Regions from separate parts of the Homo sapiens genome. Here region 1 is linked to region 2. The links come from fine-mapping of genetic effects on plasma protein levels. A gene starts in region 2. The other region holds a variant in brackets. All regions are shown on one strand. Distances are from middle to middle. Region 1 overlaps S100A9 (S100 calcium binding protein A9). Region 2 holds the start of S100A12 (S100 calcium binding protein A12).

The links. PIP is the chance, under the fine-mapping model, that this variant and not a neighbour inherited with it causes the effect. Sun 2018 read protein levels with aptamers (SomaScan).
Region 1: its variant is fine-mapped to the plasma level of the S100A12 protein (Sun 2018, PIP 0.95).

The regions. Positions count from the first base shown.
Region 1 is chr1:153,359,220-153,370,675 of GRCh38, reverse strand. It overlaps S100A9 (S100 calcium binding protein A9), which reads right to left. Exons shown (of 3, transcript NM_002965.4): 3 at 9,653-10,032. The coding sequence ends at 9,838. Among named protein-coding and RNA genes, the nearest start is that of S100A9, 7.1 kb to the right of the region's middle. The variant C/T (reference allele first, on the strand shown) is at 5,209.
Region 2 is chr1:153,373,990-153,385,147 of GRCh38, reverse strand. It overlaps S100A12 (S100 calcium binding protein A12), which reads left to right and starts at 9,527. Exons shown (of 3, transcript NM_005621.2): 1 at 9,527-9,596; 2 at 10,536-10,693. The coding sequence starts at 10,556. It also overlaps the pseudogene LAPTM4BP1. RefSeq lists a silencer at 4,594-4,764.

The sequences.
Region 1 (11,456 bases), 15 kb after region 2:
CTGAGCCCTGAACTATGAAATCAGCAGAAGTCACTGGAAAGTCATTTCCACCTTCAAAATGTATTGATAATCTGACCACCCCTTGTCACCACCATTATCACCACCCTAGTCCAGCCCCATTCCATTTCTGAAATGATCTAGGGCTTCAGGGTCCAATATGGTTGCCACGATCTATACATGACTACTGAGGACTTGAAACATGGTCATATGTGTGAGATGTACTAGAACTGTAATACACTGGATTTCAATTAATTGAGACATGCGTTACATCATTTCTTACTTTTCAAGGAAAAACACGTTTTATGACTTGAGTTTATTTGTCTAGTGACCTTGCAGCTGCATAGCTAGAGAAACAGGTCTTCATAATGCCTGGGAAAGGAGGAAAGATAAGGCTCACTAGCTACAGAAAAACAGGCAGTTAATTTTTAAAGGACTCCAGCTCTTTCTCCTTCTCAGGGGGAATTGGGTTTTCTTACATACAACTGAGTTTCTGCTTACACATTCTTTAATTTCTTTTAATTCCTGTTCCACCTCTGGATCTTCTTCAGCAGCAGGGGCAGGCCAGGTGGCAAAATTGAAGAATTTTAGAAAGGTTAGATACCCTGCTGGAGGTCAGGCAAGACAGATGTGAGGAAAAGTGGGAAAGGGGGCTTTTTACTGCAGGAGAGTGGGTTTGACTTTCGGCTTATTTACTGTGAAGCCATGTGGAGACAGTGTATGGGAAGCTGGGATTCAGGACAAGTGACAAATGATGAGTCCTGGGCACATGGTCTTGGGGTGAAGCTTTGCTGACCACCCCCATCAAAGGAAACAATTGCAGTTGTGTGGAAAGTGTGCGAGAAAGTAGAAGCCTGTAGATGGGGTTGAGGGGAGAGCCTGAAGATGGGGGTGAAGTGGGATTGGCAGAAAAGGAAGGAATGTGTGACCCAGGGAAGGGAGTCCTGGAATGGCCCAAGCCTGGAAGGCTTCTATCACCAAATGTGAATGAGAATGTGAGAGCATTTGGGGAAAGCCTTCCCTCACTGCATGACCTTGGCCAAATCACTTTGCCTCTCTGGGTCTGTGTTTTCTTTATTTTTGAAGAATTCAAAGGAATTTTAAACATCTATTTTGGAAAGTTTTAGACTAGGTGAATACTCAGGTGTCACCCAGTGTTAGTGCTCTGAGAGACCTCAGTTGGATAGAGGGGAACTTGGTGCAGGGTCTAGAAGGAGAACATCACTTAGTGAGAGGGTAGGAAGGAGGATGTCCCTTGGTGCTAAAGAGTAGCAGTCGAGAGTGTGAGGCTAGAAGTTATGCTTCTGTATTCAAATCCTAGCATTGCCACTTACTAACTGTGAGACCTTGAACAAGTTACTTAGAATCTTTAAACCTCAATTTCCCCATCAGTAGCATGGGGATAACCACAGCACCCCTCTCCCAGAGTTGGTGAGAGGATTAGGTCATCTCCTTTTTTTCCTTTTTTTATTTTTTTATTTTTTGAGATGGAGTCTTGCTCTGTCTCCCAGGCTGGAGTGCAGTGGCGCGATCTTGGCTCACTGCAAGCTCCGCCTCCCGGATTCACGCCATTCTCCTGTCTCAGCCTCCCGAGTAGATGGGTTTACAGGTGCCCGCCACCACACCAGGCTAATTTTTTTGTATTTTTAGTAGAGACGGGGTTTCACCGCGTTAGCCAGGATGGTCTCGATCTCCTGACCTCGTGATCTGCCTGCCTCGGCCTCCCAAAGTGCTGGGATTACAAGCGTAAGCCATGCGACTGGCCAAGATTAGGTCATCTCATAGCACATGGAAAGCACTTGGCACAGTATCTGATGCAGAGTAAGCACTCAACAAACATTAGCAATAACAGTAAGATAATAATTTAGACAGGAGGTAACGATTGTAGCTGACCCACCCTCTGCCACAGCACAATAGGTATAGATTATTTTAAACCAAAGCAGACTGAGGTTATATTTAGGGGTGGCTTGGATAGTTAAAGTTGACCAGTGTAAGATAAGGAACCAAGGGAAGTTATGCAATATCTTCCTCTAAAGGCCTTTGAACTAGACCAAGCTGTTCTGCAAACTAGGCCACTCCCTTGATGCACTTACCTTGATTTGGGACCACTTCTGATATATATAGTAGTATTAGAATCTGTTAAAAAAAAAAACAACAAAAAAACCAACAACTAACCGATGAGAGCAAAAGTCCAGCACATTTGCTATTGTGAAAACATTCACCAGCTGTAATTTTGTTTCCAAATAGCCCACTGAACCACAAATTGAACTTAAATCATGGCTAGAAAAATTTTAAGGGCTGCTAACCTTGGTCAAAATCCATCAGTCAGCGGCACCTAAGGACAATGACAAGGGCCCTTGACTTGGAATCAAATGAGCTTGGTTAGACTCCCAGCTCAACTGCTTGGCTCTGTGAGTTTGGGCGAATGGCTTCCCTTCTCTGAGCCTCAGTTTTTTCATGTATATAGTGTGCTGTTTGCACAAGTGATCTCCAGTCCCTTCATGAATACACAGAGACTAGACCCTGTGACTGTGGCTGGTGTCGTGGAACAAGCAAATGAACACAAGCACTGTTAGATCCACAGAGCCCAGGGATTGGCCCTGTTGCTTCTGGAGGCCCTGTCTCACTGTCACCATCTGTCCACCCCCAGAGGCCCTATTCTCCAGCCACTCTAGAACAGTCTCTAGTTTCTCCACGGCTTTGAAACTTCTTGGGTTTTGCTCCTGCTGTCCTCTTGTTCTCTTTGTCTGAAGTGCCTTTTCATCCCTTCATTCACAAACATTTTTTTGTGTCTGCTCTGTTGCAGACACTAGGCTACCTGGGCCCTTCTCTGGCTCTAGAACACCTGCTTATACACCATGGCCTGACTCAACCGTCACATCCTCCAGGGAGCTCACCTGTTCATATCTTCCTCATGTATTTCCATCAAGAGTAGACTTTAGGCCCCTTCCAATTTGGGGCTGACCTCCCTCTTCTGCTCACTGGCTGCTGCTGGAATGATGAGCCTGACAAAGCTGTCTGGGCAAAGGCATTACTGAGTGATAAAGGACACCAATAACACTCTTTTGGGTGCTATATGTGCAATACTTTGCCCTCAGGAGGATATTTCAGGCAGGCTTCCAGTACACCACAAGCCAAGCCATGCCAGCCTGTGCATCAGGCTCTTGGAGCTCAGGAGAAGGATCTGGGCTCAACAAAATGACTATCAGAAGCCCCTGATGTGAGAATGGCTAGGTCTCATCATTTTGACTTGGCCAACACAAGAAGCCTTTCAAGTTTTAAGATAAAGCAAACTAAAAATCTGGAGGGCAAGAGCCCTTACTTCCTATGTTTCTCTGATTTCTTTTATTGCCTAACACAGCACTGGGCACATGGAAGTGCAATTCTTGCCCTCTGAAAACTCAGCTTGGGCATTAGTCCAAGCAAGCTTTCCTTCTCTCTCCTTCCCTCTACCCCTGCCCCCCGGCTCCCCTCTACCCCCTCCCCCACACCACAGCCAATAAGACGGCAAAAAGTGCCTTCTGTACTCTCTGGGCATCTTGTGCTTATCATCTGCCTTTGCTTGTCTTTTGCCCACAACATTGTATTATAGAGAAAATATCTGGTAATTGTGCCCCCACTGGACTGAGGGCTCTGTGAAGGCAGGGAATCTAGCACACTATTTGACATAAGACCAGGCTCATCAGCCTCCTAACTGGTCCTCATGCTTCTACTCTGGGGTTCTCCAGGCTACCCTCCACACAGCTGCCGAATATTCTCCTCCAGATACATCATATCACATCACCTGCCTGATTAAAACCCTCCAAAGGCTCTCCAATGTGTTTGGGGTGAAATCTTCGTTGAGATGGCTTCTTGTCATCCAGGCCTCATTTCCAGTGTTGCTTCCTTGCCTGGCTGCCGGCCCACAAAGCAGTCCTGTTAGCATGTCCCCTTTATTTTCTTTGTGCAACTCATCACCATCTAAAATGATCTGGGCTATCTATTTCTTGACTTGCCTCTTGTCTGACTCTCCCCTAGACGCAGTTTTGTTGACCCAGCACCTATAACAGTGCTCTGCATTTAGTTCTCACTCAATGAGTATTTGCAGACTGAATAGCTGATGAATGTTGGCTTCTTTGCATGGAGCTGTTTCCTACCAGAGGGAATGAACACCTGGAGTAGAATGCGAGGGCGATGCTTGAGGCAGTGCTGGGAGAGTGGGAGGGCCTGGCAGCAAATGAGCCACACCACAGCGGGTTTGGAGGCCTTGCCCCCGGGGGTGGGCTCCTCTCCCTGGACCCTGGTGATATTTGAAGGCAGCTGTCATGGCTCCCTTGCTTACCTTTTCCAGACTTGATTCCCCAAGACCTTCAACAATTTTCCCTTGTGATTGTCTCCTTTCATTATGAGGAGTAGACTCGAAACTGGGACATCTTGTGTTTTGAGGGAGCCATTTCTGGTTAGATATGACCCGTAGTTACTTCACAAAGGTTAGATATGACCCCTAGTTGCTTCCCTGAAAGCACTCAGCCACATAGAACTGCATTTTACCACAGAGGACAGGAGGGCAGAAGGCAGTAAGTGAGAAAAAGCTCAGGGAGAGGATGTAGAAAAGGTAAAGAGAGAAAGAGAGGGGGCAAATCAAGAGGGAAAAGGTTGGGGGAGAGGCAGGGGAGAGGAGGGAGGATCAGACTCCAAGTCAAGGCGGGGGATGCTGAAGGTGCGGGCTGCATGCTGGAATCCTGCTGCCCCTGCCGCCCCTGCTGGTGGCCACCCTCCTCTTCCTCTTCACCTCGGGTCTTGGCAACAAACCCCTTCCTCACTGTACAGTCTGCATGCAGCAATTTTGGGTACGTGGGCAAGAGTGGGAGAACTCATGCAGAAAAGGAAAGCCTAGATGTAGTTGTTTTGAGCCAGCACCAATAGCGGTGCTCTGTGTTTAGTTGGGACTCTGCATTCCGTGGGACACTCAGGATGGAGGCCAGCTGGCTGTCGCTCAGGGGCTCCCTTTCCCTGTCTCCTGTGTCTGGGAGTGGATCTCTGAAGACAGGGGTGATCTAATCATCCAGGGACTGATTGTCGTCTTAGGATAGAGAAACTGTTTCAGGTCAGAGCCCCAAGGGGCAATAGGACTTGAGAAACCAGTTGTTTCAGTCCTGCTGTCACTTTGGTAATTGGAGTGTCAAAATCCATGACACGGGGCTTTCTAAAATATATGTTTTAAGCAACTGC[C/T]GGAAGAGGGGGCAGTGCATTGGGGTTGGATTATGGAGCTTACTTCAGGGCAGGGCTGCATCAGGGTTGTGTAAGGTTGGCTCACCGGGCTGGTGAAAGCTGAGATCTTCCTTCCTGGAAAGGTCTTGGCAAACAGCATGAAATGATCTTATTTATCATGTTGCAGTCACACCTCTCCTAATTGAGGTGAAGCTTGGGGTAGTTTGAGGCTCTAGCTTTACTTTTTCTGAGAAGCACCGCTTGGACTCTTAAGTGCTCACCTGGGCTCTTGCAACAGACTCCCCACAGGCCATGTGCCTGGGGTCTCATTCCCACCCCAAACCCATCCCATAAAACACAGATAGAGAAACTTCTATGAAATGCAAATGTGATTATATCATTGCCCTCCCTGAAGCCTTCGGGGCTCTGCCCCTGTTCTGCTGAATGGAGTGTGAGTTCCTTGGCCTGGTACCTATCCTGTTCTCATCTGTCTCTCTTACCTCTCCCTGCCACGCCCCCAGTGCTCCTCATTCGCCCTCAAACCCCACGCCTGCCCATTTCCAGGCCTTTGCATACATGGTCTCCTGAAGCACCTTCATGTTTATCCCGGGATGTCTCCAGGTACCAGCCTTGATGTCACACTGATACTTACCCCTCCATGGAGATGGCCCCAGTGAAGGGCATCATTCCCACCTCAAAGTCCCACCGAGCTACATCCCACCGAAATCTTTTAGCTGGACCTCCCTGGCCTCTCATTTTCCACATCAGATTAATTTGAGGAGCTGTCTTGTCTCCCTGCAGGCCCGAGAACTCTTTGACAACATGGACAAGCTTTATTTATCATGAAGGCCCCTCAGCATTATACTGTGCCTGACACATAGTAAGTCTGCAGTTAATGTCTGTTGAGTGAATGAAGGGACATACAAGTGAGTGGACAAGTGAATTCATTTCTCCCCCAAGTTCTGGAGCCATCCCACCACCACCCAGGCCCCAGACCACATTCAGAGCACTGTGAAGTGTCTGGGAAGAGTTTAGCAGCTTAGACTACTTCTGATCCTTCCTCATTCCTCCCAGGAAGGCATCTAGCAGTTCAGGTTCCACTGCTAACACCAGCCTGGAGGGCAACTCATTGTTGCAGGAATTGTTGGATAGTCATCTGAAGACAGGTTGTCTCTGATTCTTTAGTCACCATGGTGCTGGGAAAGTCCCCAAAGGTCATGTTTCCCCAAAGGACTCATTAATCACAGAGATAGCTACTGATTTCCACTTGGAGTGGGAATCTTAACCTTGACATGGACATGGACATGCTTGCTCTCTCTATCTGAGAAAAGAAGCCCACTCTGCTCTACTCAGCAGAATGAGGTTTTTTTTTTTTTTTTTTTTTTTGAAATGAAAGAGGCTAATGGGAATGAAGAGGTTAAGTCACCTTGATGAGTTCTGTTCAACTACGTTTAAAGAAAATTCCGCAGGGTGCAAGTGGCTTGTTGTCAGACCTTCCCCCAGGGTCTGAAACAATTGCCTACATGCAGACTGAGTTACTAGAGACAAGGTAAATGGAAGAATCCTTGTTACCTGAGGAGGTCTCTGGGTCATCCTGCCACTCAGCTGCTCTGCTCTCTGCCAGCCCCAGGTCTCCAGACAGCTGGCACCCCCAACCCCAGTTCCTGAGAGCCACTCCTACCTCACACCCACATTCGAGCAAAGCACCCATTTCTGCTCTAGAACCATCCTATCTTCACTTTGTGGATGAACAAGTGGATGGTCCATGCTGGGATCTTGAATGTGGGGGAAAATCAGCTATAGTCCCTGCTTTCAGGGGTTCATAGTCTTGGCAAATGAGTATTTGCCATTCAGTATTTGAAGTGCAATGGTGGAATTGTCAGAGTTCTGTGGGCCTGGAGGAGGAAGTCCCTATCTTCTTGAGAAGGGTGGATGGTGAGGAAGCAGTAACACTTGTTCCAAGGCTTGATGGATCCTAAGGGACTTACAAGAGACACCAGGATGGAGCACAGCATTTTTGGTGCAAAGGTGAAGAGGCTGGAGAAAGCCTGGATGTAATTTAGGGAAGGCGTTTTGAAGAAGTGGAGGAATAAACATGTGGATGGGAGGATGGATGATAAGGGGTTAGATTTGTTCTGTGTCCTCAAAGGGGAGGAAAAGTAGGACTAATGCTGGGTGGGCATGAGGAGATGGATTTCAGCTCAGTATAATGAGGGACATTCCAAGTGTCACTCCCAAAGGGGGAAACTCTCCTTTCCTGGAGGAATTCAGGCAGGGTTGGTTCAGTCACTTGGCAGGGATGTTGGCAAGAATCACTCTAGAGTGTGGGTGGGGCAGATTGGATTAAGTCCATAGTTTTCACACTTTTTTCAAGACAAATCTCTTCCTTCAAATCAAATTGGTCTGATTGAACAGGGGGTGGAGGGGCCCTCCGATTCCATCAACTTGCTGCTCCTTACCTTCAGGTTTGAGATTCTGTAATGCTAATGCAGAAGCCTTCCATTTGCAGGTTTTGATCTCCTCTTGCTTTTTTTTCTCCACATCATCCCTTGAGAAGAGAGCATAGAACACGTGAGAAACCTAGGCCATTATACAGGCAATATTTGCTGAGAACCTTCTATGTAGCAGCCACTACTCTAGGTGCTGAGAATAAATCAGAAAAAAAAAACAGATGGACTTTGCTCTCTTGGAGTTATCAGTCTGGAGGGGTAGGCAGAGTCATAAACATATTTAGGCACATTGTGATAAGTAGTGGTGGGCAGAGGGCCTAGGGGGAGCACTTACCACCCTACTGGAAGCATCTGGTCTAAGGCCCTCCAATCCCCAGGATGCTTCTCTCTCCTCATTACCAAGCTGTGTTCAGAAGGGAGTGAAGACAGTGACTCCTCCCTGGATGTGAGCATGGGAGCAGAAGGGCTGTCAGAAAATGAGTGTCCCCAGCTGTCAGGTCTCCAAGTCAGGCACAGAAGGGACTGAGGAGGGCTTCTAGACTCTGCTGCCTAAGCTCTCAGCCTGAGACAGTTCCTGGAAACATCCTCATACCCTCGAGTGGGAGCCCTTAAAACCCTGCACCCAGAGCGGAGCCCCCAGGCCCTTAAAGCAGGAGTCTGCAACAGGCAGGTTGGGGGCACAACCATAGCCAGGCTGTGAGGGGAGGGCTGAAATCCAACACTGGCAGCTCTATATCTTCCTGCTCTGCACTGGGGAAGGGGCTGGGGAGGTGCAGCCAGTGGGGCAGATATGATTCAAGCTACTTTTCGTACTGCATTATTTTGAGCAACTCTGTCATTTGTGTGACTTTGGACTAGTCTCTTCTCCATATTACACCTCGGTTTCTTCACTTATGAAAAGGGAGAGTAGGTGACTGCTAGTCTTCCCAGCTTCCCCAGATCCTAATTCTGTGAGTCTTCTTTCTGCTGAAAGGACAGGGGTCAGAGGACCTTGATCTGGACTCTGGTTTTTGGAAGGCCAAACCCCACTGGTTATAACCTAGGAAAGGGACTTTATAGCCAAAGGGCAGGAAGATGGCAGAGGAGTCCCTGAACTGAGCACTTGGATCTGGGGCAGCTTGAAGGGGGAGCTGCAGCAGTAGCCCTGAGGCAGCTAGGGCCAGGCCTGGTAGTAGGCTTTGCAGAGAGAAGCAGATACTTGTGCTGGGCCCAGCTCTCAGCTACCCACCAGAAAGGACAGCTGGCCCTCAAAGCTTAAAATCAGAATCTTCAGACCCCCAGGCTCTCTGGACCCAGAGCACAGACTCCTCCTGGTAGTCACGGAGTCTTTTAGCTGCAGAGCCCGGACTGGAGCTCATTTCTTCACTCTGCCATTCTGTTGAGACCAGGGTGGGCATAGGGCTAAGCTCTCAGACTCCCACTTGTGTGAGCACTCCCGTTGATTAGGGTGGCAGGTCTGTTAAGAGAGATCCAATTGCTCTCTTGGATCCAGAAAAAGTGTGAGAGTAAACACACCGGATCTGTCCTTGTTTCCACTGCCTGGGTGCCAGTATTCCTCCCCAGACATGGCACTATCTAGGTCCATTTCTGGAAGACTTTCAGAGGAATAGAATTCTGTTAGGAGAGAGAGAGGGCTGTGTAGACAGTGATGGGTGAAGACAGGCTTGGGGCTGGTTGGTGAGGTAGCAGGCATATCAAGGGGTAGAGATATGCCTTTTTGCTTTCTACAGTGTACAGTGACAAGGGCCATTTGTCAGGCTGGACAGGCTGGACAGGGTGTCTGAGATGGGGCAGGGAGCCTGGGATCTGAACAGTGGGGCCTGAAGTCAGAGGTGAGGACATGGTCAGGGAGGTGAGCCCAAGGGGCCCAGCACAGACCCATGTTTTGCTGCTTCTCATTTTGTTAATACTGAATGAGGGGGCTGAGTCACAGATAAGGACAGGGCTGTCTAATGCCCAGAGCCCTGGGAAGGCAGGGTTGGAGAAGAGGTGGAAGAAGCACACAGAGCACTGACTTGGAGGAAGAGACTTTATTTGGCCCCAGCCCCTAGCCCCACAGCCAAGACAGTTTGACATAACAGGCCCCGGGGCCCTGGTTGGGTAGAGGCAGGGTGGCCTGGCCTCCTGATTAGTGGCTGTGGCCGTGGCCACCATGACTGTGGCCGTGGCCGTGGCCACTGTGATCTTGGCCACTGTGGTCTTAGGGGGTGCCCTCCCCGAGGCCTGGCTTATGGTGGTGGCCAGGGCCCTCGTCACCCTCGTGCATCTTCTCGTGGGAGGCCCAGGTTAGCCTCGCCATCAGCATGATGAACTCCTCGAAGCTCAGCTGCTTGTCTGCATTTGTGTCCAGGTCCTCCATGATGTGTTCTATGACCTTTTCATTCTTATTCTCCTTCTGCGGGTGGGGAGAGAAGGCTGTGAGAGCTGGGTGTGGCCAGAGGTGGGGACTGGGAGCACAGTAAATGACCAGCTGGCAAATGTACAAGGGAAGCCTCACCCTGGGGCTGGATTTAAAAATTAAAAATGACCATAGGCTGAGTGCGCACAATGGAGCAGACACTGAGCACATACCAAACGCTCTCCAGTTTATTCCCTCCATGACCCTGTGACTTGGGTGCTGATTCTCTATTTATAGAAGAGGAAGCTGAGTTCCAGGGTCTTGCCCTGGTCATGGCATGAGTAAGCCTGGAAATGTCACCTCATTTGGTCCTTATAACAACTTTAACAGCTAGGAATGGTATCTTCCTGGAGGAAGACTTGAAACCAGTCCTAGAGAGGGTCATTAGTTTTCACAGCTTGACTATTGAGGGCATGCAAATTCAGATCTGACTTAGAGGCCAGTTCCACTCTGCTACCCCTCTGCACTTCACTCCTTCCCCTGCCCTCCCTTCCCTTCCCTCTGGAGGTTACCAATTAGTGAAACTTATTTCAACCAATACAACGGGGAAACACCTAGAAAAACTAGGTGTGGGCAGGGGAGATGGAGGGTCAGAGAGCAGAGTATGTGCTCCGCTGACCTCAAGGGTGTGATAAAGTATAAAAGGGGAGATGGTCGGACAGGGTGGCTCATGCTTGTAATCCCAGCACTTTGGGAGGCCGAGGCAGGCAGATCACCTAAGGTCAAGAGTTCGAGACCAGCCTGACCAACATGGAGAAACCTTGTCTCTACAAAAAATAACAAAATTAGCCAGGCATGGTGGTGCATGCCTGTAATCCCAGCTATTCTGGAGGCTGAAGCAGGAGAATCGCTTGAACCCAGGAGGTGGAGGTTGTGGTGAGCCGAGATTGTGCCGTTGCACTCCAGCCTGGGCAATAAGAGCGAAACTCTGTCTCAAAAAAAAAAAAAAAAAAAAAAAAAGGAGAGACATCAGGGGAGGTGGAAGACCCAGACCCAGGCGGGGTCCAAGAGAGCACTGGTTGGTTCCAGCTCTGCCACCCTCTGGCTGAGTCACCTCGCTAAGTCCCCTCCCAGAACCTGTGGGGTACCCAGCCAATGCGAGCACTCTCCTGTGCAGCCCATCCATGAGGCTCTGCTTCCTTTCCCACAGCATCGCTTTGCTTCTGGTGGGGGATGTCAGGTGGGGGGTGAAGCGGGCATAGGGGGTCACATGGAGGATAGTTTTGCCATGCGGCCTCTCTGCTGGGCCCTTTCTTGCCTACCCCACCCAGCATCCTGCCTGCCTGAGGCCTCCACCTATGGAGAGCTGTCAGGGCCCCTAACTCTGAAGGCTGCAATTCTCCACCTTACCAAGGCGGAGGGAGGGGCACTGGGAGGGCTGGGGACCTACCCCAGGATGTCTGGCTCCGGGACTGGAACTG
Region 2 (11,158 bases):
CCTTCCAGTCTTAGATTTGGAAATTCCCCTGTGATCTAAAACACTGCTGAATCAGCCACCCATGTACTCAGGGCATCTCCATGCTGGAATAGTCAATCTGTGGCCTGTTGCCAATTTGAATGGGGCCCCAACAGCCATCGGTGGTTCTGATTGGAGAGTGATGGCCTCAATGCAGGTTACCTAGAACATAGACATAAAATCAGACAGATTTTAAACATGGTCAATGGTATGGGAAAGCAGGCTCATCATGCAGTTTACCTTGCCATGTAACTCATGGCTAAATCTGACACAGGCTTTGTACACTTCAACTAGAGACTTTTATAGTGACAGTTCCCTGACCGGAGTTACACGTGCTCCCCTGGCTAGTATATTCCTTTGTGGGATATACTGCAGAATACCTGTCACCCTTAGATAGAGCATGCTGTTTTGGAATTTGGGGTCCTCAAGTGTTTGTGCAAAATGACACCGTAAGCTGGAAGGGCTTCTGACATTGCAAGGTTGCCTGACATACTCTGCCAGGAAGGCATTCTGATAGCTGATTCCATTTTGCTGTCTGTGTCCTCCTACTTGGCATAGGTGTACATGCCCTGGGAAAAATGGTACCCAACTTGTCATTGACTACGTCAGTGACAACTAATGCTACCACCTGGACTATTTAGGACCAGTGAGACTCACTGAATGCATTAACTAAGCTGGTGATGAACACCTGAACAGCCTCTGATCATCTGCTGGCAGAGCAGAGTGGCCTTTGGTTGTTGCCAACACCTCCTGCTGTACCTGAGTAAACACCTCAGGGATTGTACAGACACAGGGGAAGGGATCCACAGGCAGACCCAGCCCGTTGGTTTCAAACAGTGAGGCCATCTGAAGGATCCTTCTTTGGCCTTTTTGTAAAAAAAAAAAATTATTTTAGATTCAGGATATACATGTGCAGGTTTGTTACATGGGTATATTGCATGATGCTGAGGCTTGGGCTGCGAATGATCTCATTGCCCAAATAGTGAACATAGTACCTGTTAGGTAACTTTTCAACCCTGGTGCCCCTCCTGCCCTCCCTCCTTTTGGAATCCCCAGTGTCTACCACTCCCATCTTTTTGTCTGTGTGTACTCAGTGTTTAGCTCTCACATATAAGTGAGAAATTCTGGTATTTGGTTTTCTGTTTCTACATTAATTCACTTAGCGTAATGGCCTCCAGGTGCATCCATGTTGCTGCAAAGGACATGATAGTGTTCTTTTTTATGCTTCATAGTATTGACATATATGACATATATGTACTACATTTTCTTTATCCAACCCACCATTGATAGGTACCTGGGTAGATTCCATGTCTTTGCTAATGTGAATAGTGCTTTGATAAACATACTAGTGCAGGTGTCTTTTCCTTTGGGTATATACTCAGTAACGGGATTGATGGGTTGAATGGCAATTCTATTTTTAGTTCTTTGAGAAATCTCCAAAATGCTGAACTAATTTGCATTCTACCAACAGTATATAATCATTCCTTTTTCTCTCCAACCTTGCCAACAACTGTTATTTTTTTGACTTTTAAATAATAGTCATCCTGACTGATGTGAGATGATATTTCTTGTGGTTTTGATTCACATCTCTCTGATGATTAGTTTTTGCATGTTTGTTGGCTACTTGTGTTTCTTTTTGAGAAATGTCTGTTCATGTTCTATGCCCACTTTTTAATGGGGTTATTTGTTTTCTTCTTGTTAAGTTGTTTGAGTTCCTTATAGATTCTGGGTATTAGCCCTTTGTCAGATGCATAGTTTGTGAATATTGCCTCCCATTCTGTAGATTGTCTGTTTACTCTGTTATTAGTTTCTTTCACTGCGTGGAAGCTTTTTAGTTTAATTAGGTCCCATATCAGTTTTCGTTTTTGTTGCATTGCGTTTGAGGACTTAACCATAAATTCTTTGCCTAGAACATGTCTAGAAGAGTATTTCCTAGGTTTTCTTCCAGGATTTTAATAGTTTAAGGTCTTAACATTTAAGTCTTTAATCCATCTTGAGTTAATTTTTGTATGTGGTGAGAGGTAAGGGTCCAGTTTCATTCTTCTGCATATGGTTAGCCAGTTTCCCCAGCACCATTTATTGAATAAGATTTCCTTTCCCCATTGTTTATTTTTGCCAGCCTTGTTCAAGGTCAGTTGGTTGTAGGTATGTGGTTTTATTTCAGTGGTCTCCATGCTGTTCCATTGGTCTATGTGTCTATTTTTGTACCAATACCATGCTGTTTTGGTTACTGTAGACTTGTAGTGTAGTTTGAAATTGGGTAATGTGGTACCTCTGGTTATATTCTTTTTTGCTTAAGATTGCTTTGGCTATTTGTGCTCTTTTTGCTTCTATATGAATTTTAGACGAGTTTTGTAAAGTTGTGTGAAAAATGACCTTGGTAATTTGATAGGAATAGCATTGAATCTATAGATTGCTTTGGGCAATGTGGACTTATTAACTATATCAATTCTTCCAATCCATGAGCATGGCATGCTTTTTCATTTGTTTGTGTCATCTATGATTTCTTGTAGCAGTGTTTTGTAGTTCTTTTTGTAGAGGTCTTTCACTTTGCTGGTTAGATATTTTCTTAGGTATTTTATTTTTTGTGTGTGGCTGTTGTAAATGGAATTGCATCTTTGATTTGGTTCTCAGCTTGAATATTATTGGTGTATAGAAATGCTACTGATTTTTCTATGTTGATTTTGTTTTCTGAGATTTGCTGAAGTTGTTTATCAGGTCTAGGAGTCTTTTGGAAGAATCTTTAGAGTTTTCTGGACATAGAATCATATTGTCAGTGAAAAGAAGTAATTCGCTCTTTTTCAATTTGGGTTCCTTTTATCTCTTTCTCATGTCTAATTGCTCTGGCTAGGACTTTCAGTACTATGTTGAATAGGAATAGTGAGAGTAGACATCCTTGTCTTGTTCCAGTTCTTAGGCAGAATGCACCTAACTTATGCTTATTCAGTATGATGTCAACTGTGGGTTTGTCATAGATGGCTCTTATTATTTTGAGGTATGTTTCTTTGATGTCTATTTTATTGAGAGCTTTCATCATGAAGAAATGTTGAATTTTTATTGAATGCTTTTCTGCATTGATTGAGATGATCATATAGTTTTTGTTTTTAATTCTGTTTATGTGGTGAATCACATGTATTTATTTGCATATGTTGAACCATCCCTGCATTCCAGGAATAAAGCCCACTTATTTGGGAAATCAACTTTTTGATATGCTGCTGTATTTGGTTTTCTAGTATTTTGTTGAAGAGTTTTATGTCTATGCTCATCAGGGATATTGGTCTGTAGTTTTCTTTTTTTGTTGTGCCTTTGCCAAATTTTGGTGTCATGAGGATATTGGTTTCATAGAATGAGTTAGGGAGGAGTCCCTCCTTGATTTTTTGTAATAGTTTCTTTAGGATTGATACCAGGTCTTCTTTGTAGATCTAGTAGAATTTGACTATGAATCCGTCTGATACAGGGTTTTTTGTTGTTGCTATTGTTGGTAGGTGTTTTATTACTGATTTATTTTCATTACTTGTTATTGGTCTGTTCAGAAATTCTATTTCTTCTTGACTCAGTCTTGGGAGGTTGTGTTTCCAGGAATGTATTGATTTCCTCTAGATTTTCTAGTTTGTACTCATAGAGAGGTTCATATCTCTGAGGATCTCTTGTATTTCTGTGGAATCGGTTGTAATGTCACCTTTGTCATTTCTGATTGTGTTTATTTCGATCTTCTCTCGTTTTCTTTGTTAATCTAGCTAATGGTCTATCAATCTTGTTTATCCTTTCAAAAAAGCAAGTTTTCCTTTCACTGATCCTTTGTATGGCTTTTTGGGTCTCAATTCACTTAGTTCTGCTCTTATTTTAGTTACTTCTTTTCTTCTGCTAGCTTTGAGCTTAGTTGTTCTTGTTTTTCTAATTACTTTAGGTGGAGGTTGGGTTGTTAATTTGAGATCTTTCTATTAATATCTTCTTTATATATATATATTTTTTATTATACTTTAAGTTCTAGGGTACATGTGCACAATGTGCAGGTTTGTTACATATGTATACATGTGCCATGTTGGTGTGCTGCACCCATTAACTCGTCATTTACATTAGGTATATCTCCTAATGCTATCTCTCCCCCCTCCTCCCACCCCGCTTGATATAGGCATTTAGCGCTATAAAATTCCCTCTTGGGAGGATAGAGGAGCGAGGCTGGCGGGCACACCGGTGAGCGGGCCGGAAGCCGGAGCAGCCGAGGAGTCTGCAGCAGCCGCGTGGCGGAGTCTGGGCGAGGAGGTCAACGCTCCTGGAAACTTGGGCTCGTCCTCGCGCCTCTGCTCCAGGAGCAATGACGATGGTCACGCCCTGGTCGCACCCTGGATGCGGTTCTACTCCAACAGCTGCTGCCTGTGCCTCCATGTCCGCACCAGCACCATCCTGTTAGGTGTCTGGTACCTGATCATCAACGCCGTGGTACTCCTGATTTTGTTGAGTGCCCTGGCTGATCCGGATCAGTATCACTTTTCAAGTTCTGAACTGGGAGGTGATTTTGAGTTCATGGATGACGCCAATACGTGCATTGCCATTGCGATTTCTCTTCTCATGATACTGATATCATGAGAATTAAGGCTAATTACGTAATTAAGGCTAATTACGAAGCATACAGGCAACACGCATTCTGGATCATCCCATTCTTCTGTTACCAGATTTTTTTTTTTTTCCGAGACGGAGTCTCGCTCTGTCGCCCGGGCTGGAGTGCAGTGGTGCGATCTCAGTTCATTGCAAGCTCCACCTCCCGGGTTCACGCCATTCTCCTGCCTCAGCCTCTCCGAGTAACTGGGACTACAGGCGCCAGCCACCACGCCCGGCTAATTTTTTGTATTTTTAGTAGAGACGGGGTTTCACCGTGGTCTCCATCTCCTGACCTCCTGATCCACCCCCTTCGGCCTCCCAAAGTGCTGGGATTACAAGCGTGAGCCACCGCACCTGGCCCTGTTACCAGATCTTTGATTTTGCTCTGAACACCTTGGTTGCAATCACTGTGCTTGTTTATCCAAACTCCATTCAGGAATACATACGACAACTGCCTCCTAATTTTCCCTACAGAGATGATGTCATGTCAGTGAATCCACCTGTTTGGTCCTTATTATTCTTCTGTTTATTAGCATTATCTTAACTTTTAAGGGTTACTTGATTAGCTGTGTTTGGAACTGCTGCAGATAGATGAACGGCAGGAACTCCTCCGATGTCCTGGTTTATGTTACCAGCAATGACACTAAGGTGCTCCTACCCCGGTATGATGATACCACTGTGAATGGTGCTGCCAAGGAGCCGCCGCCACCCTAGGTGCTGCCAAGGAGCCGCCGCCACCCTAGGTGTCTGCCTAAGCCTTTGAGTGGGCGGAGCTGGGGGCAGCAGCTTGACTTTTCAGATATCTGAGCAATAGTCATGTTATTTCACTTTTCAGGTGAGCTCTCTGCGCTTGTTTGTTGCCGAAGTGCTACTTTTTAAGATTTAGATGTTAGGTTGAAACCTGTAGTTTTCCTCAACATATGCTTTGTTAGAACACTGTGATAGATTGGCTGTAGAATACTTTCTGTAGGATTGGGGGTGTAACAGGCTTCACTAACCCTCCCTAGGAATGTAAACTTCCCCCAAATCTAGATGGACCTAGAGTCAGAGAAGTCTGCTTTCATACCTGTGGGACCCCAAAGTTGGGCAGTTAGTCATACGTTTCTCTCTGTTCCCTCTCTTTTGAAAGTGTAAAATAAAACCAAAAATAGACAACTTTTCTTAAACCTTTCCAATGTAGAGAACAAAATCTTACGAAAACAGGAATGCCAATTCTGTAATCATTTTTCTAATTAGGTAAATAGAAGTCCTTATGTATGTGTTTCAAGAATTTCCCCCATAACATCCTTTATGACAAGTTCAATGGCAGTTTGTGTTTGGTGGTAAAGGATTTTCTCCATGGCCTGACTTAAAACCATTGGAAAGCACCAGGCAGTGGGAGCAGTAACCACCTGATGTCTGTTCTCCTGCATCCCCTGTCCAGGGTCATGGGGCGGCGTGCCTCATCTATGTTAGAGGGTAAAACTGATGTGTTTAGTGCTGCGTGGGATCTGGTGCTCCTCTTCAGGATTCACATCCCCACCCAGGGCCTGCTTTTACTGAGTGTTCTGCCCTAGCCTGGTTCAAGGAAGTCATGCAACTGACTTTATCAAGTGGAATTGGGATATATTTGTTATATATTTACCTAAAAACATGGAAAGGATTTTCCTCCTTCTTCCCCTGCAAGGTACATTCTACAGCTTTGAACTTCCAAGTATGCCTAGTCACCTTTTAAAATGTAAAAGTTTTCAGAAAAATGAGGATTGCTTTCCTTTTATGCACTTATTATCTTGACTACCTAAGTTGCAAGGTATTTTTATATATTCATATGTTCAAAAGCCAGCAACTCTCCTGTTGGTCCATTATTGAATGTGCTGTGAATGAAGTCTTTTGCAATTAAAATGAGATTCGCCCACATCCAAGATGAAAAAAAAAATTCCCTCTTAACACTACTTTTGCTACATTCCAGATGTTTTGATATGTTGTGTTGTGTCTCTATTTTTGTATGTTTCAAAGAATTTTTTGATTTCTGCCTTAATTTTGTTGTTTAACCAAAAGTCAGGAACAAGTTGTTTAGTTTCCATTTATTTGTGTGGTTTTGAGAGTTCCTCTTGGTATTGATTTCTATTTTTATTCCACTGCGGTCCAAGATTCTTGGTATGATTTTGATTTTTTTGAATTTATTGAGATTTGCCTTATGACTGAGCATGTGGTTGATCTTAGAGTATGTTCCATGTGCAGATGAAAATAATATATATTCTGTGGTTGTTGGGTGCATTGTTCTATAGATGTCTATTAAGTCTAATTGGTCAAGTGTCAAATTTAAGTCCATAATTTCTTTGTTAGTTTTCTGCCTTGATGATTTGTCTACTGATGTCAGTGGGGTGTTGTCCCCTGCTATTATTGTGTGGCTGCCAAAATCTTTTCTTAGATGCAGAAGTACTTATTTTATAAATCTGGGTGCTCCAGTGTTGGGTGTGTATTTATTTAGGATGGTTAAATTTTCTTGTTAAATCGAACCCTTTATCACTATGTAATGCCCTTCTTTATCCTTTTTTACTGTTGTTGGCTTACAGTCTATCGGATCTGATTCAAGAATAGCAACCTCTGCTCTTTTTTGTTTTCTGTTTGCATGATAGATCTTTCTCCATCCCTTTACTTTGAATCTACAGGTGTCATTACACATGAGACAGGTGCTTGAAGACAGCAGAAGGATGGGTCTTGTTTTTAAATCGAATTTGCCAAGGTATGTGTTTTAAGTGCAGTGTTTAGGCCATTCACATTGGAGGTTAATATTTGTATGTGAGGCTGTGTTCCTGCTTTTTTGATTTCTATTTTTTTTTTTTGAGAGGGAGTCTCACTCTGTTGCCCAGGCTGGAGTGCAGTGGCGCGATCTCGGTTCACTGCAAGCTCCGCCTTGTGGGTTCACGCCATTCTCCTGCCTCAGCCTCCTGAGTATCTGGGACTACAGGTGCCTGCCACCATGCCTGGCTAATTTTTTGTATTTTTAGTAGAGATGGGGTTTCACCATCTTAGCCAGGATGGTCTCGATCTCCTGACCTCGTGATCCGCATTTAGCAACCTCTTGCCTGGATGGCTGGGATCCTGGGCTAGTCCCTTCTCCAGGCAGATGTGAAAAAAAAAAAACATCTCAGGATCCCAAACTTACTAAGCCAGAGGGAAAAGTCAAGCTGGGAAATGGGTCATGCAAGCCTGCCCCCACCCAGGTTGGTTTCTAAATAAGATAGCTACAAAGATAAAAAGCCATACACCAATCTCACAACTTGCCCACAAGGAAATTCCTTGTGAGCCTCAAGATCTTTACCCTAAAACAGTTCTATTGAATTTCACCCTGGCAGTGTAATTGACAGCTTATCTTCACAGGTGTGGGACAAAGGGCAGAACATAAAGTCATCCCTCTGCTCACCCAAGACAAATCCATATCTGATTGCTTCCTCTCCCCTATTTTTGTTATCTTATGTAAAAATGCAGATTCACTGAGCCAGATGAAGGCATAAGTGACTATTTCCTCTACTCCGCTCCCACATGAAAATTGTGTATTCAGTGAAAGATTGATCAAAGACTCAAAAGGATGCAATCACTTGTCTCTTATCTACTGACACATTTAAAAAATATTTCTTCCTCTTCCCCCAATATCCACTGTTTCTCCTTCAAATATTGAAGCCCTCAAAATCATCTTTGGAGAAAGACGTAGACCTACCTCTGGGCACGCATCCTTAACTTTGGCCAAATAAACCTCCTAAAATGATTGAGATTCACCTTGGTCATTGTCATTGATTTACACAAGCCTGATCATCCTGCTCTGGTGGTGTCCTCCTGGGCCTAGTGAAACAAATACTGTCAATGGCTTAACAATGTTGCACTGAGATTGTGTCAGTCAAGGTGACACATGGATCGGAGAGACAGACTTTTGCCTCCAGATCCAGAGAGGTCGGTGGGCACATGAAATGAACTAGCTTTGCTAAGGGGGATATCTGTGTTGTGGGGTAGATGGCAGCACAGGTTCTGGCATGGCCTTGATTGCTCAGCAATCTTATTGACCTCTAGGCATAAACCAAGGGCAGAGTGCTTTTGGATGTCCCTTAGCTTTGGTGCGACATGGGGAATGTACAGATGAGACTTAATCCATTTTGGGCAGGTTTCTGAATCTTGAAGGACCACCTCTCCATGAATCCTGGGCATCTGTTGTCCCTTGCTGCCTCTCTGTGAGTAATAAAGTTGCTTTACTAAAACTCGTGTGAATGTTCTGTCTTACTGAACTCATGAACATGGTAAAGTAACCTAGGCATGGTGAACTTTCTTCACACACAATGATTACCCTACTCCAGCTTTCTAGGTCTTTGTAACAGCCAAGTTAGAAAGTTGGGAAAGCAAAGGGGAGGCATAGTAGCATTGCTCTCTCCTTTTTTGAAAACCTTGGAATCTATTTTGAAAACTGATCCTCTGCTCCAGTGATGAACTTTGCATCCCAGAACGACTTAGGAGGAGGTCTCCCTACCTATCTCCTTAGCTGCATAAAGATCTTTAAGTTGATATTCCATTTGCCAAAACTGAAGAGCTGGTAACCTCATCTGTTAAAACAAGACACTCAGGCTGTAAAGTTTGTTCTCCTAGTCTTTTATTAGGGAGCAGTGGAGTAGAGCTAAACCTGAAACCTGGGCCCTGGCTCAGGGCTAAAAAAGGTTCAGGGCACCCCTGTGCGGGTGGGTGGAGTGGGGGTGATTTTGTTTCAGGCTGAGCAGGAGGGCAAAATTCAGTCTGGGTACAATCTGGGCTGCTCCTGTGGCAGCCTAAGCCACAGGTTTGAAGCTTCTATTGAGCAACAGAGTACTTTACATAAATTGCCTCAAGATGAATCAGAGATTTCTTCACCCAAGGGCTAAGATGAAGCCTGAACTGATTATAAAACCTTCCTTGGCTCAGTGCCCTTCACCACTGCTGGCTTTTTGCTGTAGCTCCACATTCCTGTGCATTGAGGGGTAAGTGCATTTTCCTTGGATGGGTTCTTAGGTGGTCCACAGGGTAGTGACTGCAGGTGACCACTTTGAAATCACAAGGTGTTGGAAACCACAACCCTCCACTTGCCTGAGCACCTCTGGGGTGATATTGCATTTTGGACCCAAGTAGATCAGCTCTTGTTGTGCTATGTAGACTCAGTCCCATGATTTAAGAATGGCTAAGCAGGCCGGGTACGGTGGCTCACGCCTGTAATCCCAGCACTTTGGGAGGCCGAGGCGGGCGGATCATGAGGTGAGGAGATCGAGACCATCCTGGCTAACATGGTGAAACCCCGTCTCTACTAAAAAAATACAAAAAATTAGCCGGGCGTGGTGGCGGGTGCCTGTAGTCCCAGCTACTCGGGAGGCTGGGGCAGGAGAATGGCGTGAACCCGGGAGGCAGAACTTGCAGTGAGCCGAGATCGCCCTACTGCACTCCAGCCTGGGCGGCAGAGTGAGACTCCGTCTCAAAAACAAACAAACAAACAAACAAAAAACCCAAAACAACAACAACAAAAAAAGAATGGCTAAGCAGGGGTGGGTTATGGACCATTTGTGGGGGATATGTGGCCATAGTGCCATCACCTGAGGAAAGCAAACAGCCTGGCCAATCACAGAACCCTTCCCAAGGGACCTTGAGTAAGCAATACCCTCCAAGTTATGCACCCCGGTGGATGAGGTGGTATGGAACATGGGCAACTGAGGCTGATTTTTTTAGACGTTAGACAGTATTATATGTTTTCTCCTCCCCATCCTATCCACACATGAGAAGTTCACCATGGATCAAACAGAGCAGAGACCACAAAATAGATATGGAGGATGTTATGTTTTCTTTAGGCCCTTGATTCAGAAAGAGAGGGGAGAGTGGAGGTTGAGGGGTGGGGGAGAAACTGCCTCTAGACTTCCCTTGTTTCCTTGAAGGTTAACATTAGGCTGGGAAGATGACAAAACTTGAAGAGCATCTGGAGGGAATTGTCAATATCTTCCACCAATACTCAGTTCGGAAGGGGCATTTTGACACCCTCTCTAAGGGTGAGCTGAAGCAGCTGCTTACAAAGGAGCTTGCAAACACCATCAAGGTAGGTGATGCCCCTCTCACTGCAAACTTGCCCATGACCCTGCACTGAGGGGAGTGGCAAGGCCTGGCAGAGGATGGTGGGACAAGGACTGGGGTGGGGTTGGCCCCAGTTTGAGCTCCCAAAGGATGCTCTCCCCGCTGCTGTGGGAGAGGTCCTTTGCTTCCCTCTCTCAATAACTCACTTAAGGCTCTACTCAGTTCCTCTCTCTGAGTCTGTTTCCTCATATGTAAAATGGAGAGAGGCAGGGCACGGGAGGGGTTGAATGAGTGAGCAGAAGAGTACCTTCCAGGTCAAGCCTTGTTAATTCCAGGGTGGTTCATGACCATTGTGTTCTCTGTTTTGTTACACTGGATTCTCCAACACAGTGTTGGCTAATGAGTTAATGTGCCTGGGCCTTCACAACCCGAGCTCTGAGGGATAAGAGGCCTAAGAAAGGGTCTTGTGTGGAGGTTCTGAACTCAAGGT